Linked DNA regions of Homo sapiens. The protein of the gene in region 2 purifies or fractionates together with the protein of the main gene of each other region. This does not show direct contact. Each region holds a gene or a part of one and is shown on either strand. Other genes may lie near its edges.

Region 1 (7,590 bases), on a different chromosome or scaffold from region 2:
GTTGATTTAGTTGTTTGTAGGTGAGATTTAGAATATGCGTTTAAGAGTTGAAGGATGTAAGTTAAGATCATTGTACTTAGAGTATCTTATGTCTTGAACAGTCTGAAGCTGGAATGTGAGAAACTCGCCAGTGAGAAGACAGAGATGCAGCGGCATTATGTCATGGTAAGAAAACCATGTCACAGATTCAAAGTGCCTATTAGTTTGGAATACCAAAAACAAGAATATGTTTAAATTGCTGGGGGCTGCAAGATAGATCACAGTCACCCTGCCAGTGCAGTTGAAGTTGTGGGAATATGTCTATTAGCAACCTGTAATTCTAGGCTGTTATAACTTGCCTTTGACAACTGGCTTTGATTGGAATTTTCAGAAAGTTCAGCCACATGGGGTATAATTTTCTGTGCTTTGTTTTTACAGATCGAAAAAAAATAAAAACAAAACCTTGTTTGTTTTGTCACAAGCAAAAATGTTTTTGTGTTAGTGGCTTTCTTTGTTGTTTTATTGCTCTTGCTCCAAACAATTTTTGCCAGTTTTTCTGTATGCTGTTAACATTGTAAATGTCTTATTATTAAAGACATTATTAAAAAATAATGTTTTATTTCTTTGAAAAGGAGTGATGGATAAGGAAAGACAGCAGACCATTTTTCAAATTTTTTTCTCTTTATGTTACTATTACATTAATATTTGTATGTTTTCAATTTCTGTAGTGTTATATTGGTTTGAGGAATGTTGTAGTCTCCTGTATAACTGATGTGTTCTGCCAGAATTTCTATGCCAGTTATACTACACGTTCAAAAAACCAGATCTGCTTTTACAGAAGTATTATGAAGCATATTTTTATGATTGTCCAAGAAAGCTCCAGAATAACCCACTCATTTATTTTTCTATCTAGCTTTTTTGCTTTGAATGTGTGAATATGAGCAGTACACTAACAAATCAGAAATCAAACTCTAAGTAGCATCACCTTTTCCAACCTTCCTTTCAAAACATCAGCGTTTGTATAAGGCATTCTTTGCTGTTAACTTGCCTGCTGTGCTTAGGAATTAAGAGTCCGTAGGATACCAAATTTTCATCAGACTTTTTTGATGCATCTGCTTGGGATGTATAAAGAAACTGGAGATGTTAAGAATGCTGTGTTTGAATTTAATTTTTCTTAGTTTTGTGTGTTTTCTCTTAGAATTTGTGTCTTAAGGTGGTTAAAGATAGTGATGGGCTCTTGATTTATTGGCATAGGTTATATGAAGATACTGGTTTAGGTGAGGCTTTTATGTTTGTTTCAGATTTACTTGGGGCATTTTGAACAAACTAGGGAGATTGTTTGATGAAAGTCATGCATTTAATTGCTTTTCCTTCTTTGACAGTATTATGAAATGTCCTATGGGTTGAATATAGAAATGCACAAGCAGGTAAGTTATTTCTTTATAACCATTTTAAATGACAGTAATACTGGGACACTATGAAAAGAAAATTGTATGTTTTGCAGTTTTATTCTGCAAGCCGTTGTGGCTACCTGTATTTAAAAGTCTGGGTAGTGAAGAAAATGCTGTTTTTTCATGTGTGGCTCCCCATCTTTCTTTCATATTATCCTAATTTTTATAATTTAAAAATGTTATTTTAAAAAGTCTGAATACATATTAAACTCTGTACACTTTCAAAAGCAGGATGCTAAATTTTAAAATCCTCTTGTTATTCTTCTGAAAGAGTTGCTTTATGTATTTTGGGCATTGCAAACTTGTCTTGTGAAAGAGCTTTTCTTGGAAAATATTAAACAGTAAAATTAAATTGTGTGGCGCCTTCGTTGGCTTGATGTGAAAGAATGGATAGAGGGTGAGCTGGGAGGATGAAAATGAAATCTGTGGAGCTACAAAAGAAATTGATGTAAAATCCTTGTACTGGTCCCCTGAGGCTACTTAGTTGGGTCTTACCAAGAACTATAACCGTTACTTCCAAAATTTGTACAGAGTAAATGAGCCTGATAGGAGGATGTGATAAGGTTCAACATTGGGTCTTGAAATCTAGCAATTAGTTCAGTAGCAAAAAAAAAAAAAAATGATTAGTCAGAAAGCACTGAGAGATACGACTCAAACAGTCTTCTTTTTGTGCAGGAGACTGAATAAAATGGTTTGGCTTAAATTTCCTAGACAGAAGAATAATAGCGGGTATATCTATCTATATATATATATACACACACACAAATATATATACATACATATATATATATAAATATTGTTTGGCGATAGTAATTCCTCTAGGAAGCATTTATTTTTAGTGATCTCCTAGTGGAAGCACTTCAGGTCTCATCAGCCATTTCAGAATAGGTGTGTATGTGTTTGTCTGCTGGGAAAAAGACAAGGGAAAACTTACTGCTTTTCATTTCCTATTTATGGTCAAGGTGGATGTCATTACTTTCTAAGTTGAGAAAATATGAAATGAGCACATACTATTAGGCCTTCACTATTTATGGATTCCTTTTTGGGTATAGTTATTTTCTACATGCTCAGAACATCCCAGATAGTAGATCTTTAAGAGATGGCTGTTAGACAATAAGGCAATCTGATGAATAGTATTGGAAAACAAAAAGTTGGAAAAAAATGAGACGTTGCTTACATTGAGGACTTTTAATTTCAGATACTGTTTTACTTTGTATGCTATTTGGTTATGTCAATATTAGCATTATAGTATAGTTTGAATGGCCTGTTGAAATTAAATTCTTATTTTGGCATCTTTGTCATTTCTGTTTAGATTAGTAATGTAAATATCTTCTGCTTAAACAAAATCTGTTCAATCTTGTGGATGGACTTCTCTTAGTTCTACCTTACAGGAATAAATTACATGAGAGATATTGTTTGTTAATTATCCCATTACATTTCCTTTGAGGTCTGGATCTTGTGTATGTCTCTTTTTTTGTCTGCACCCCACTCCCCAAAATTAATTAGTGTCTTTTTAAAGATTGGACCAGATGATTAATTTAGTCCCTTTATTTCTCCTTCTGTATCTTGTTTACCCTAACCACTTAGTTTCCAGGTCTCCTTGTACCATCTACATTTCTAAGAGGCACATAGCTTGTATTTGGCTGTATGTATTTCTTTTTCGAGGGGGTATGTGAAATCCCTTAATTTTACACATTTTATACTGCTATAATTCTGTCATCTTCTTGTCCAGCTAGCCTCAAATGCCATCCATTTAAAATTGAGAACAGTACATTTTCCCTTTTTTTCGTTTCCTTTTAAATTCAATCATATCAAGAATCCTGAGGGCAGTTTATCACATTATGAAATACAGACAGCCCTGCAAACCACCTACTTATTATATTTTCTTTCTTTCTCCCCCTTAAGCATAGAGGCATATCTGTCTTTATTTGTTTTCCTAGGCAGACAGCCTTAGTTCCTCTTAGCCTCTCTTCCAGATGTACTCGCTGGATACCCTTGTAATGGAAAGCAGCAATAATGCAGGGAAGTTGCCCTGCGGCATAATTGGGCCTAGTTCTCAAGATCGGGTTAGGTTTATTCACTTATTAGATTTGTGTCTCGAAGGGTTCAACAGTAGGAGTCCCGGGAGCCCTTGGAAGTACCCTAGTAATTGGTGGCCCTGATATTTGAAACCTTTGTGTATTTTTTGGTTAACGTTCCTGTTCTTCTTGGCTGCTGCTAGCCACAGAATATTTATTTTTAGAGAAATTTTTCATTGGAACAGAAAATGGTGGTTGTGATGCAGTCATGGCTCTGTGACTTAGCAAACTGATAAAAAGATAAAAGTATGAAGCAAAGACAAACAGGGTGGAGGTCGGTGTTCTCCCTCCTACCCTTTCTATGTGGTGCTCATCATCAGTCCCCCTGTGTTGATTCTGATAGAGAACTATAAAATGAAACCTATGGGGAATTTGTCATTCTGAAATGAAAGCTAATGTAATTAGTACCAATTAAAGTACATTTAGTAAATTGGATTTAATCTTAATTAAGCCTGCATAATGTTGCCAATTTTTAACAATTATGTTTGAGAACATAATTAATTTAAATTTTGGTAACTGAGTAAATAGCATTAGTCTGGTAGAATTAGTGGATTTTTTTTTTTTTTAAAGGGGAACTTGGTGATATGACGTGGAATTGGAACATAAAATATGAATCTAAATTTCTGGTAATCTTTAGGATTGATAGAGCTAAGCAGATGAAGCAAAAAAAAAAAAAAGGATGAAGTATTCTAGGCTATAATGGGAATTAATGCTGTGCCATTGTCTCAAGTTCTAGCATAAAAGTGAAGATGACAAATAGGACATGGTTAGAAATGGCACATGTTTTAGTGTGACGTCTTCAAAATGGAATTTTTAAAAATGAAAGAACATAGGCCCTTATTCCCTAAGGATTTCCCTAAGTGTATGGTTTTTGTTTTTTGTTTTGTATGAGACAGCTGACCCAGGGTTTAGTTGTTAAGTTTTTTTGCTGATTGTTCTTCTTTGTAAATACAGTGTGGCTTCTAAATGGGTTGGTGGCTTCTAAATGGCACAGTGGGGTGATGCATGGAGTTGATAGCATTACTAAATGCTGCTTCTTCCCATCTTTCACCTGTAATGCTGTCATTAAAGAAGTCCTCACTGATGGACTCTGACAGCAGTGGTTACCATTCTAAAAAGTGAGTATTGGATATAGATTAGGAACAGTAGGTATGTGAATTCAACCTATAGGAACTATATGGAGATGAACATACCATCTTTTGAAAAGGGGAGCATGAGAACATCTATGACTTCCTTATAGTTAGTATTCTACAATGTGAAAGCTTCTTCATTTGAATTTTAGTAATCATCAGGAAATTTTAGAAATCTAAAACGCATAGAATCTGAAAGTAAGTACTGCACATTTATGTATGTTTTATGTGTGTATTTTTATATGTGTGTGTATTTGTGTGTGTGTGTGTGTATATATATATGTATATTTAATCAAAGCAAGAAAACTCCTGTTTCACTTAAAGCCATGTAAATTTTATTACGAGACTTGGGCCACAACCATTTGAGTGCTGCTAAAATATTAATTGAATAGAAATGAAAGGGCCTTGCCAACTGATAGGATATCATAATCATAGCCTCTTTGGTCGATGGTAAATGATGATAAATGACATTAGGAACCTTTTAGCAAACTGTAATAACTACAAGGAGGGAAGCAGTATGGATTTGCATTGTATCTGATACCCTCTAGTACCAAGTGGATTGCCAATACTGCTTGTTTAGCATTTTCTAAGGGCAATAAGATATTGATTTCTGACTTACAAGGAACAGCTCTATTTTCACCATTGAAAAGTATTGCAGGTTGTTAAGAAGAAATTGACTTGAAGAGGCCGACTGCTGCCCATCATGGAGCAAATAAAGCAAAACTGCCGAAGCATGGTGGAGCAGCGAGACGGGCCCTCAGCAATTTGTTGCTATTAATTTACCATGCTCGACAGCAAATCAATCGGCATCTACTTCATCTGCTGGAGAAAATGCTGTCCAGGGCAGATAAAAGGCTCGGCATGGTACAGAGAATAGACTGGATTGGCCAAAAGCAGGCTGCAGTTAATGTGTAAATAAGTGAAATCAAGGCCACTGTTGCAGAGGAAGCTGTTGTTAATTAGGTTGGTGTTTTTTAGTGAACTATTTTAGAAAGCAGCTAGGATTTGGAGAGTAAGAAGAGATTTATTGAGATTGAAGTAATACATGACTGGCATGACATTCTAGCCTTGAGTGTACTTGAATCTAGGGTGCAGTAAATTTATTTGGGGACACTGCTTGCTATGAAGTTTGTTGAAAGTTCATTTTAGACCACATTTCCCTTATGATAACTTTTTTTTTCAACCTTGCCAGTTTTTTGCACATCTTCTGTCTTATTGTGTACTCTTAGATTTAGAAGAGTAGATGGAGGAGTAGGTGTTTTAGTATGGAGGCACAAATGTGTCTGTTATATTCTTACCCAGTGCCTTTTTTTTTTTCAGAGATAGGTATAATTGAACTCTTGTATAATAATGAGAGTGAACTATCATGGAAGATGGGGTGTTCTAGCTGAAAGTAACTAATAAATGAAGATTTTGCTGACAGAACTTTATCTTGCTTCAGAAATATTAGGAAATAACAATCTAGAGGGCCTGAATAGTGGGTAGATACTACTAGATTATAAAATCTTAAAGATGACAAGTGAAATTTTGATGTCTGCATAAACTTCAGATACAATTATAAGACTATGTGTGTGGGGGTGGGAAGGGTTCTTGTGTTTTTGGTTTTCATTAAGGTTTAAAGCCACCTTTTCTAATTTAAGATTATTTACACGCTGATAATATTCCACAATTAATGTTAACGGAGTGAAGGGTATTGGTGGTGTTTTTTCCCCTTTACCTCTCATTTGGGCATTTTAAAATAGGAGGCCAACTTCATTTACTCCTGTTTAGTAAATCTAAATGAGTGTAGGTTTTAAATTAGATTTTTTCCCAAAACCCTTCAGAAGGTCTAGTATTAGGGCAGTTGATAAGTAAGTGGAAGCACCTTGGGCAGGACCCAGTGACCTGTCCTTTTACTTATTACAGCACCTGCACGGGAAGCAGATCTGGAGGATGAAATTTAACCTGTTACAGTGTGTGTATGTTTTAGGGTGTGTGTTTTCCGAATACTGTGGGGAGTTCCCTTTTTCCTTCTCCCATGATGGATTCTTTTGTCTTTCTAGAGATACCATAGGAGGATATCTGGATTTTTCACCTAAGGCAGTGATTCTTGAGTGAAATTGGAATTTCCTTTCAATAGAAGTAAACATTTATTATATATCTGGCTTGCGCTTACCACTGGTCTGGGCACACTGCCAAAATTCTTATCGTTAGTTCTCATAATGATCCTAAGACAGGGATTATATCCAATCAAAAGTTGATTAAACAGGGTCAGCTCTGCACAAGGTGATACAGCTAATAGTTGGTGGATTCAGGACTTCAAATAAATTTATGTGGGAGGATATCTCCTGGGAGATGGGTTTGCTATGGGTTAGAGATTCAGGCCCCAGTTCATTCCTGAAATAGAGAGTCCCTGAACTTTAGGCTCATACGCAGAACCTCTTGAGTTGGGGGATTCTCTGCAACTGCCTAGAGTCCATGGATGGCTCAGCCTGCCCTCTGCTTGCAGACTGCTTTCAGTGGGTGAGAGGGTGAGGTTGCTTTCACTCGGAATCTCCCACATGTGGGCTAGGGAAGCTGCTTGCTTATCAAGATGGAATTTGCTTCCTCCCTAGGCAACCTATTTCTCATTTGTTTACAAACTTGTTCTTCTCTTTAACTTTTATCTTTTCCTGTGGCTTATGAGAGTGCCTACAGACAAGGGGCTGTTTGTTAATCACCATCTTGTGGGCTTTTGAAGGGGGAAGCTGGGAGGGGAAAATGTGATGTTTTGTAGCCTCTTTGTAGTTTAGAAAGAGGTTCGTCGATGCAGGAAATCACACAACTCAGTTTTAAATGAAGGCAGATGTTTTGCTTTTACTGTTAAAAGAATTTCTTTGCAGCATTCAAACAAAAGGATAGTTCCTTTTCACTGCCCCTTAATCCCTGCTGGATATTATTTATTTGTATTTATTATTTTGATGGGCAAAGTTC
Region 2 (7,643 bases):
CCCCAGCTGCCCATCCTGCCACCCTCCATCCCTGAGGGTTCTGACCTCCTGGACCCAGTTTGACCTAACGCTCAAGCCCCCTGGGGCCTTGGCGCTTTCATTTCAGGCCACAAACTGGGTGGGTCTCCTTGACCCTGAAGTCAATGGCAGCAGTGGGGAAGTTCCTTCTTCAGTCAAGATAAGCAACAACCTCACACAAGTAGACTCATGTCTATGTCATGCTCGTGGGTCCTAAAACAGGTCTTTAAAAGATACTTTCAAACCAAATAGGTAGCAATTAGGCATTATTTTATTATTCCTGAAGCTCATGAACAAGAAAATGGCACAGAGACAGGTCATCTCCCTATTGCTGAGTTACCCTGGAGACAAGCCTCATGCAAACAAACTCCTTCTCCAGGACACACAATGCCCAAGAACAGGCTGGGTCTGAGGACCTGCCTAGCATGGGGGGCAGAAGCACTGCCTGCTGCAGAGACAGCCACGGAGTGCATCCCCACCACCATCACACTGCTCACTCTGCTGAGAAAGGGTGAGGTTTTAAAGGACATTCACCAGCCTCAGATGCAGGGGAAATGTGCTTAGTTTAGCATTTACATATCTTGACACAGTAATGACACATCACTCAACAATACTTCAAGGGTAACTAACTCCAAAATTCTTTATTTAGTAAAATTGTCACATTTGATGTCAATGGAATACACAAACTCAAGTGTGCTACAAACAAGATGTACAGAGCATCACAGCTCTGGGCAGTGCAGCTCAGTGCACCTGCCTCTCATCTCCCCGCTGAAGTGGCAAGTTCAAGCTTTTGTTTAGCCCAGGGCTGCCTGGAACACTAGTGCCCAGCACCATTTCTGCCACCTCTGCCCCCAGAGCCCGCACAGGGCTGGTGAAGCCTGGGTGGGTGAACCTGGGAGAGCGCTGGCAGCTCTACAAAATTCTTCCTCCTGCCCGTAGCTCCCTCCCTCCACCCACTCCAGAGCTGCAGGGTCCCTAAAAGTTTCTTAAGAAACGGGGCTGGGGCCTGACTGGGCTGGTTACCAGGGGCTGCCCTGCAAGCCATCCATCAGAGGAGGGAGGGAAGACCTGGGAGACTTCCAGGGCCCTACCCCACCACATCTGAACCCCTGGGAGGAGGGAGGAGATCCAGGGAGGGCCGGGCCCACCCCCGCAGGACTCTGGCTGGCATTGGTCACCAAGGCCTCCAGACACTCCGGGCAATTTGGGCTGTGGTCAGGCTGCCCAGGGCTGCGGGCACCAAGTCGGGCCCCTCAGCAGGAGCCTGACTCAGTTCAGCCTCAGGGGCCTCCTCCAGGTCGGAGCACAGGTCGTCCCCAGGACCCGGGGGGCTGGGTATTGGGGATCCCGGAGCGCCCCCCGCAGGCCAGCCACTCCGTCCAGGGGCTCTAGGTGGCCCCGCCAGGGCGTCCCCCAGCAGATCCTGGAAGCTGCTGCCCTCACGCAGCGGCATGGACTCGAGCAGATGGTTCAGGAGCTCGGCAGCGACGGTAGCGTCGATGGCCTGGCACGTGGACACGAACGTGTGCACCTCGTGCATGCACTGGATGTAGCCGGCAGCGAAGCGCTCGCTCGCTTCCGCCTGCAGCTGCTCGCGCTCTGGGCCCGAGGGTGGGAGGGAGAGAGCCGCGTCCCGCGCGGTGAGCGGCGACTGCGTGGCCCAGCCCACCCGGCCCGCGGGGACGCGGCTCACCCAGGAGACGCGGGGGCGCACCCTGCTCCGGTGGGAGCCCTCGCCGCCGACAGGACAGGGGCGCCGGGAGGGAAGTCCTCCGTCTGGCAGGGGTTACAGGCGCCCGCGGCCGGCGCCCCCGCCCGCCCCGCCGCCACTCACCGCGCGCCCGGCCCCGCAGCACACCCTGGACCCGCCGCACCGTCAGCTCCAGCACTTCGGCGTTCTCCAGCTTGGCCTGCACCTGCGCGGGCGGGAAGGGCGGTGAGCCGGCAGCGCGCTCCCGGACCCGCCCGCCCGCCCCGCAGCCCCACGGCGCCTGCCCGGCCGCCGCACCTCGGCGCCCGCCAGCAGCAGCCGCAGCTCCTGCAGGCTCTCGTTGATCCGCGCGCGCCGCTTCTTCTCCACCAGGGGCTTCCGGGCCTGCGGGGAGCGGGGCACTGAATCCCAGCCCCGCACGGCCTCCCGCCCGCTTGCTCGCCCATGGCCCCGGCCCGCACCTTGCGGTCCCCTCGCGTCTCCCAGCCGTCCTCATCCTCACGGCCCACACGGTCCCGGCCAGGCGCCGCGGGTGGCGCCATGCCCGCTCCGCCGGGGACGCGGCAGGGGCTAGGAGCAGCGGGGACGGGGAGCGGCGGGGACCGGAGTGCCGGCGCCCTCCGCTGCCCCGCGGCCGCCCAGCAGCAGCCCAGCCGTCCGCGCTCCTCGCGGCTTCCGGCCCGCCGCGGTCCCGCCCCTTTTATAGCCGCTTATTTGCATCTCAATGCGCCGATTGGCCGCGCGGGCCCGGGGCGGCCGACCGCGAGGCGCGCTGCAGCCAATCGGGGCAGCGCGCTTTGTCCGGCCCAGCGGCTCTGGCGGTCGGGCAGCTGGCTGAGCTAGGCGGGGCCCCCAGCCCGGCCTTCCCTAGACCCCCGCGGGGGCGGCACCGGGGCGGCGACCCCGGGTAGCTGCGGCCCTGCCCGCGCTTGTTTCTCTCCGTCTGCTGCTCTAGGACCACTGATCTGCCGCGCGTGCGAGCAGGCGTCCACCCGTCCGTCCGTCCGTCCGTCCACTCATTCATTCACCCATTAATTCATTCATTTCCCTCCTTCGCCGATGGCGCCTCCAGAGTTGAGCGCTGGGGCCACTGGCCCCAGGAGATGCGTCCCTGGTGTGCAGAGCCACAGTCAAGTCCGCGGTCTCTGGACCTAGAGGGGTTTCAGGTCCCGGCTGGGGTGGCTGCCAAGCCCCGGGGAGGCAGGGTCCATTGGGCAGCGGTGGCGGGGCGGCCCCTGAGTTTCTTCCGGACTCGTCCAGACGCCGGGCCGGACCCCCGACGCCGCCCTCCGCCAGCACTGGAGTCCTAGTGGGGCGGGGTCCCGGGTGCTCCCGCCCGCGCCGCTCTCCCCCTGGGCTCTGCGGGTCACCAGCCCCGCCCCCCTCTGAGCTCCCCCATCTCCCTCTAGTCCCCTTTGGCCCCCGGGGCCCCCTCCCTCCCTTCCACTGCCCCCCGCCCGCCTCCCTCCTCCCCTCCTCGTCCTCCGCGCCCCGCCTCCCAGGCCCGCCGAAGCTGCCGTCTGGTCCTGTAACTTGATGCCCGTGACAGTTGGCAGCTGCGGCCGCTTCGGCGGAGAAAAGCGAGAAAAGCGGCGGCCGCGCCAAGAGCGACAGGTGTTGGCCGCGCCTTTGTCTCGCACCCTTTGTCCGGCGGGCAGGCGGCGGGCGCTTGTCCCGGCCAGACGCCCGCGACTCCCCCATCGCGGCGGGCCGCCCATCTGCTGGGTTCCTCTTGGCCGCGGGCGGGGTGCGTGGGCGGTGGGGCCGCGCCCTCGGGCAGCGTCCTGGGGACCCCTGCCCGGCTCCTGCCCCGGCGTCAGTCCAGACGCTGTGTGGAGGAGCCGGAACGGGAGACGCCTTCTCGGACCCCAGCCGGCCGACTACCAGCCTGCCCCGCACAGCACCTGCCTTCCTCAGTCCCCACTACTCACCCGGGCTGGGATCGTCAGGGTCTGTTCTGAGCCCCTCCAGGCTATAAGCGTCCCTGGACAAGGGCACAGTCTGACCTAGGACCCCCTGTCCACCTCCCCGCACCCCCAGCAGAGCCTGGCCTCACAGAAGCGCTGGTAGGTAGGGAAGGTGAGGGGTGGCCCTGGCAGGATGGGCTGGAAGGCCGCGTGGGAGGGGAACATCACGGGACCGCAGCAGCTGAGCGGAGCGGCAGGACTAGGCTGCAGACCGACCGCCCCACTGCCCCTAGAGAGGTCTGACAGGCCTCCCATGGCCCCTTTACTTGCGCCTCTCCACCAGAGGGACCCCTGCAGGCTTCCTGCTGGGTGAGTTTGGTGAGAGGTTTGAAAGCTCCCAAAGTCACCTCACTGACCTCTGTAATTACCTGGGACCCCCTCCCGCTGGCTCCCAACTGTCCCTGCTCTGGCTCTTGGTTGCTCTATGAGCAGGGTCCTGAGACTTCCCCCAGCCCAGCATCACTCACCTGGGTGTGAAACTACCGCTTTACTTCACACACTCCCCACCTGCCCAGTAGTGGGGCTGGCAGGGTGGGGCTGGAGTGGTGGATCCCAAGGAAGTGGATTATTAGCCTGTGACTTTACTCTCCTTCACCACTTAGACATCACCCCAGGGAAGGAGAACCTCCACTCCCCCAAGTGGCTACAATGACATTTCCACTACTTCGAGAAACTGTGATAGGGAAAAATAAACTCACTGATATTTCCTGTACTCCCAAGTTTGCAAACTGATTTACACTCCTCTCATTATCCAAACGAACAAGGCCAAGTAGATGTTTTAGGATGCTCTCATCCTAAAACATCTGCTTTATGTTAGGCAATTTATATTGCAACAGGATGATCAGGGCCCCAAAAGAGGACTTTGGGTAAAGCCTGACTGAACACTTGATTGGATGGGGAACTGGATTTGAGGGGCAAGGAGGACATGATAAAGGCAAATGGTGCAAGCAAAAAAAAAGAAAGAAAAGCAACTAGGAACTCTAGGAAAAACAAAAAGCTTCCCAAGAAATGTAATCTTAGCACATTACTTGGCTCAGGAGACAATTTTCACAGTCACAACAATGTAACAGTGTTCATAGGGTTTTAACATTTAGAATTAATCTATACAGAAGGCAAGGAAGGATTGTTTATGGTTATGGGACATGATATAAAGTTGACCTTGTAAAAACAAAAGGACAGGTGATAGGAGTTATGAGAGAGGAGGCTAAAGGGAGGACTAGGGACCTCAAAAGCCTTGTCTGACAGTGGAGTGGGTGGAGGGTTGAGGAATGCTGTCTAGAGTTGAGGGAGGGAGAAATTAAGCACTGGGATATGCCTCGGTGTGACCAAGGATCCTACAGGGAAAAGAGCTTAAGTAGAGAAGGCTGTACATCAGCAAAATCCTTCTTGGTTGGACTGGAAGTTGCCCAAGGTCCCCTCTGCAAGGTCAGCTTCAATTCCCTTTAGCGGTGCACTGGCCAGCTGGCATGGCCTTTTTGTCCCAGAAGCCTGGCCTATCTTGAGGTCACCAAGCCCTCCCTCCCTCCTTCACAGCAGCCTCCCCTAGCCAACACTTCCTGCCATTTGTCCCTTGGGCCAGTCCTGCCTTCAAAGTTTGCCTGAGTATGGACTTCCTGAGCATTTGAGTCCTTTGATCCCCCTAGAGCCAGGAACAGAGGCCAGCAGAGGCTGGGCAGGGTGGTGGTTGCTGCGGGGATACCAGTTAGCAGTGGGGGTGGCAGGCCATAAATCCCTGGGGGAACAAAGGCAGCTGCGGCCTGTAGACTGTCCAGGCCCCTTGTGGGCAATCTGCCCAGGAGACTCAGAGAATCTCCGTTTGGTTTGGAAATAAATCCCTTGGGGTTATATGGTAAATAAAAATACAATTAAGAGTCTTCCAAAAGCACTCAGGTTCAGTGAAACAACCATATCTGGCCATTTAGAGCAGTTTGCAGAGGCCTCTGTGCTCGCTAGGGAGGACTTTGCCTTTTATCCCATCAGCACTTGGCGTTAGGCAGCCAGGCTAGCAGGCAGAGGAGAGCCCCTCCCTTCTGCTCAGGGAGCTTCTCAGAGGCTGGGCATTGGGTTCAGGATCCATTCAGCTCTCTGCTCCCACCCCCAGGGTCATGGTTTGAAGAGTGGGAGGGATGGGGAGCAACTCTTCGGGCTTCCACAGTTTTGGCCTCACAAGGCTTCATTCATCACTGTGAAAGAAGGGCTGGGGTCAGGGGACTATGCCGCCCTGCCCATATCATTCGCAATGGAGACATGTGACCTTCCTGGTGGAGCCTCCTGACCGCCCCACCTTTAGCCCTACCTAGCCCGATGACCAGAAGACAGGCAGCCAGCCTGGAAAGGCCAGGTAACCCAGGGCAGGGATGCAGGGAAGACAGAGGTGCGTGGAGGCAGAGCTGGGGGCACTCTGGGGCTGAGCCAGACAGCTGCACCCCTCCAACTAAAAGTGAAAAGACTGTGGGGCATGACACGATTAGGTTTGCATTACGTGAGTTCACTCCTGCAGCCTGAAGGAGGGTGTGTGTGTGACACGCACAGGAAGAAAGGGAGCCAGCAAGAAGCAAACGCTATAAGGGAGCTGACCGCCAGGAGGCCTTTGGGATGTAAGATTCTTTAATGCAGAATTCCTGGAGTTCTTTAAAAAAATTTTTTTTAAATAATCTTTGCTCTCTATTCAGGTTTTCCTTTGTGCTATGTGAAAAATACATACAAGTAAAAATAAAAATATACTTGCTTTATTTACCAATTTTCTAAAAGGCAAACAGGTCATAAAAAGACACAAGCAGTCAAACAAATCTATTGCACTGGGTAAAGAAAGTTTGGTTTGCACACAAACAAACCACTTGTCCAGCAAGGCTCAACAAATCATCACAGAAACTCTGAGAGCTTATTTACATATCTCTTCGGGAATATATTAAAAAGAAGGCTCAGTTTAAAATAGAGAAAAACTGTTTAACACCTGTGTAAGCACACACACTAAAGAAAACATGACTTGATGCTTGGCATCACGTAAACAAATTCACAAGATGATCCTATTAAGTCAACTGCTTGGCACGCGCTGAAGCTACAGTTAACAATCAGTGAGCACATATTAAATGATAAAATAATGCTGATGGTAAACATTCATAACAGCAGAGTAAGATTTTGGCAGTTTTGTGTTTCGGTAACATAACTGTAACCTTAGATGAACACCTATCCCTTCATGATCTGACTTTAGAGGCAAGGAGTTTGTAACATCTAATGGCCATAAGAATGCAGACTGCTACCTTATCATAGGCATAGGCAGCTGATGTTACTTTGTAAATTAACGAAAAATTAAAGTGTTCTTGTGTTTATGAAGAATAGGTTTAATAGTCAGGCATAAGATGGTTTTACGATGAAAACCTAGTGGATTACAAAGAGATTTCACCTCCATCAAAAAACAGAAAACCCTGGTCCCAGTTGGGCGTGGTGGCTCACGCCTGTAATCCCAGCACTTTGGGAGGCCGAGGTGGGTGGATCGCTTGAGGTCAGGAGTTCGAGACCAGCCTGGCCAACATGGTGAAACCCTGTCTCTACTAAAAATACAAAAAATTAGCTGGGTGTGGTGGCAGTCGCCTGTGGTCCCAGCTACTCAGGAGGCTGAGGCAGGAGAATCGCTTGAACCTGGGAGGCAGAGGTTGCAGTGAGCCAAGATGGCGCCACTGCACTCCAGCCTGGGCAAAAAGAAACTCCATCTAAAAAAAAAAAAAAAAAAAAAAAAAAAAGAAAACCCTGGTCCCTTTTAAGCCTCATAGTCTTGGTCCAATTTTAAGTCAACTGTTCTTCAGTGATAACTTTGAATTTCCACCAGGGACCAATATTAAATTTTCTGAACCATCTTTGGAATATACAATGCAACATGAGGTTTTGTAAAAAGCCGGGCAGACTGGCCTCACTTTTCCCCAAGTGTCCAAATGACCTAAAAGTGCTGG

What was found. The genes of interacting proteins can lie anywhere in the genome.
Region 1: the proteins of HES6 (region 2) and TLE4 purify together in Homo sapiens (co-immunoprecipitation; 2 studies listed by BioGRID and IntAct, with this or other methods). This does not show direct contact.

What each region holds. Positions count from the first base shown.
Region 1 is NC_000009.12:79,574,772-79,582,361, forward strand, and holds part of TLE4 (transducin-like enhancer protein 4), read left to right. Parts: intron 1-101; coding exon 102-165; intron 166-1,361; coding exon 1,362-1,406; intron 1,407-7,590. UniProt on the Homo sapiens protein: Transcriptional corepressor that binds to a number of transcription factors. Inhibits the transcriptional activation mediated by PAX5, and by CTNNB1 and TCF family members in Wnt signaling.
Region 2 is NC_000002.12:238,237,635-238,245,277, forward strand, and holds HES6 (transcription cofactor HES-6), read right to left. Parts: upstream 2,405-7,643; 5' UTR 2,272-2,404; coding exon 2,191-2,271; intron 2,114-2,190; coding exon 2,027-2,113; intron 1,935-2,026; coding exon 1,853-1,934; intron 1,618-1,852; coding exon 1,193-1,617; 3' UTR 633-1,192; downstream 1-632. UniProt on the Homo sapiens protein: Does not bind DNA itself but suppresses both HES1-mediated N box-dependent transcriptional repression and binding of HES1 to E box sequences.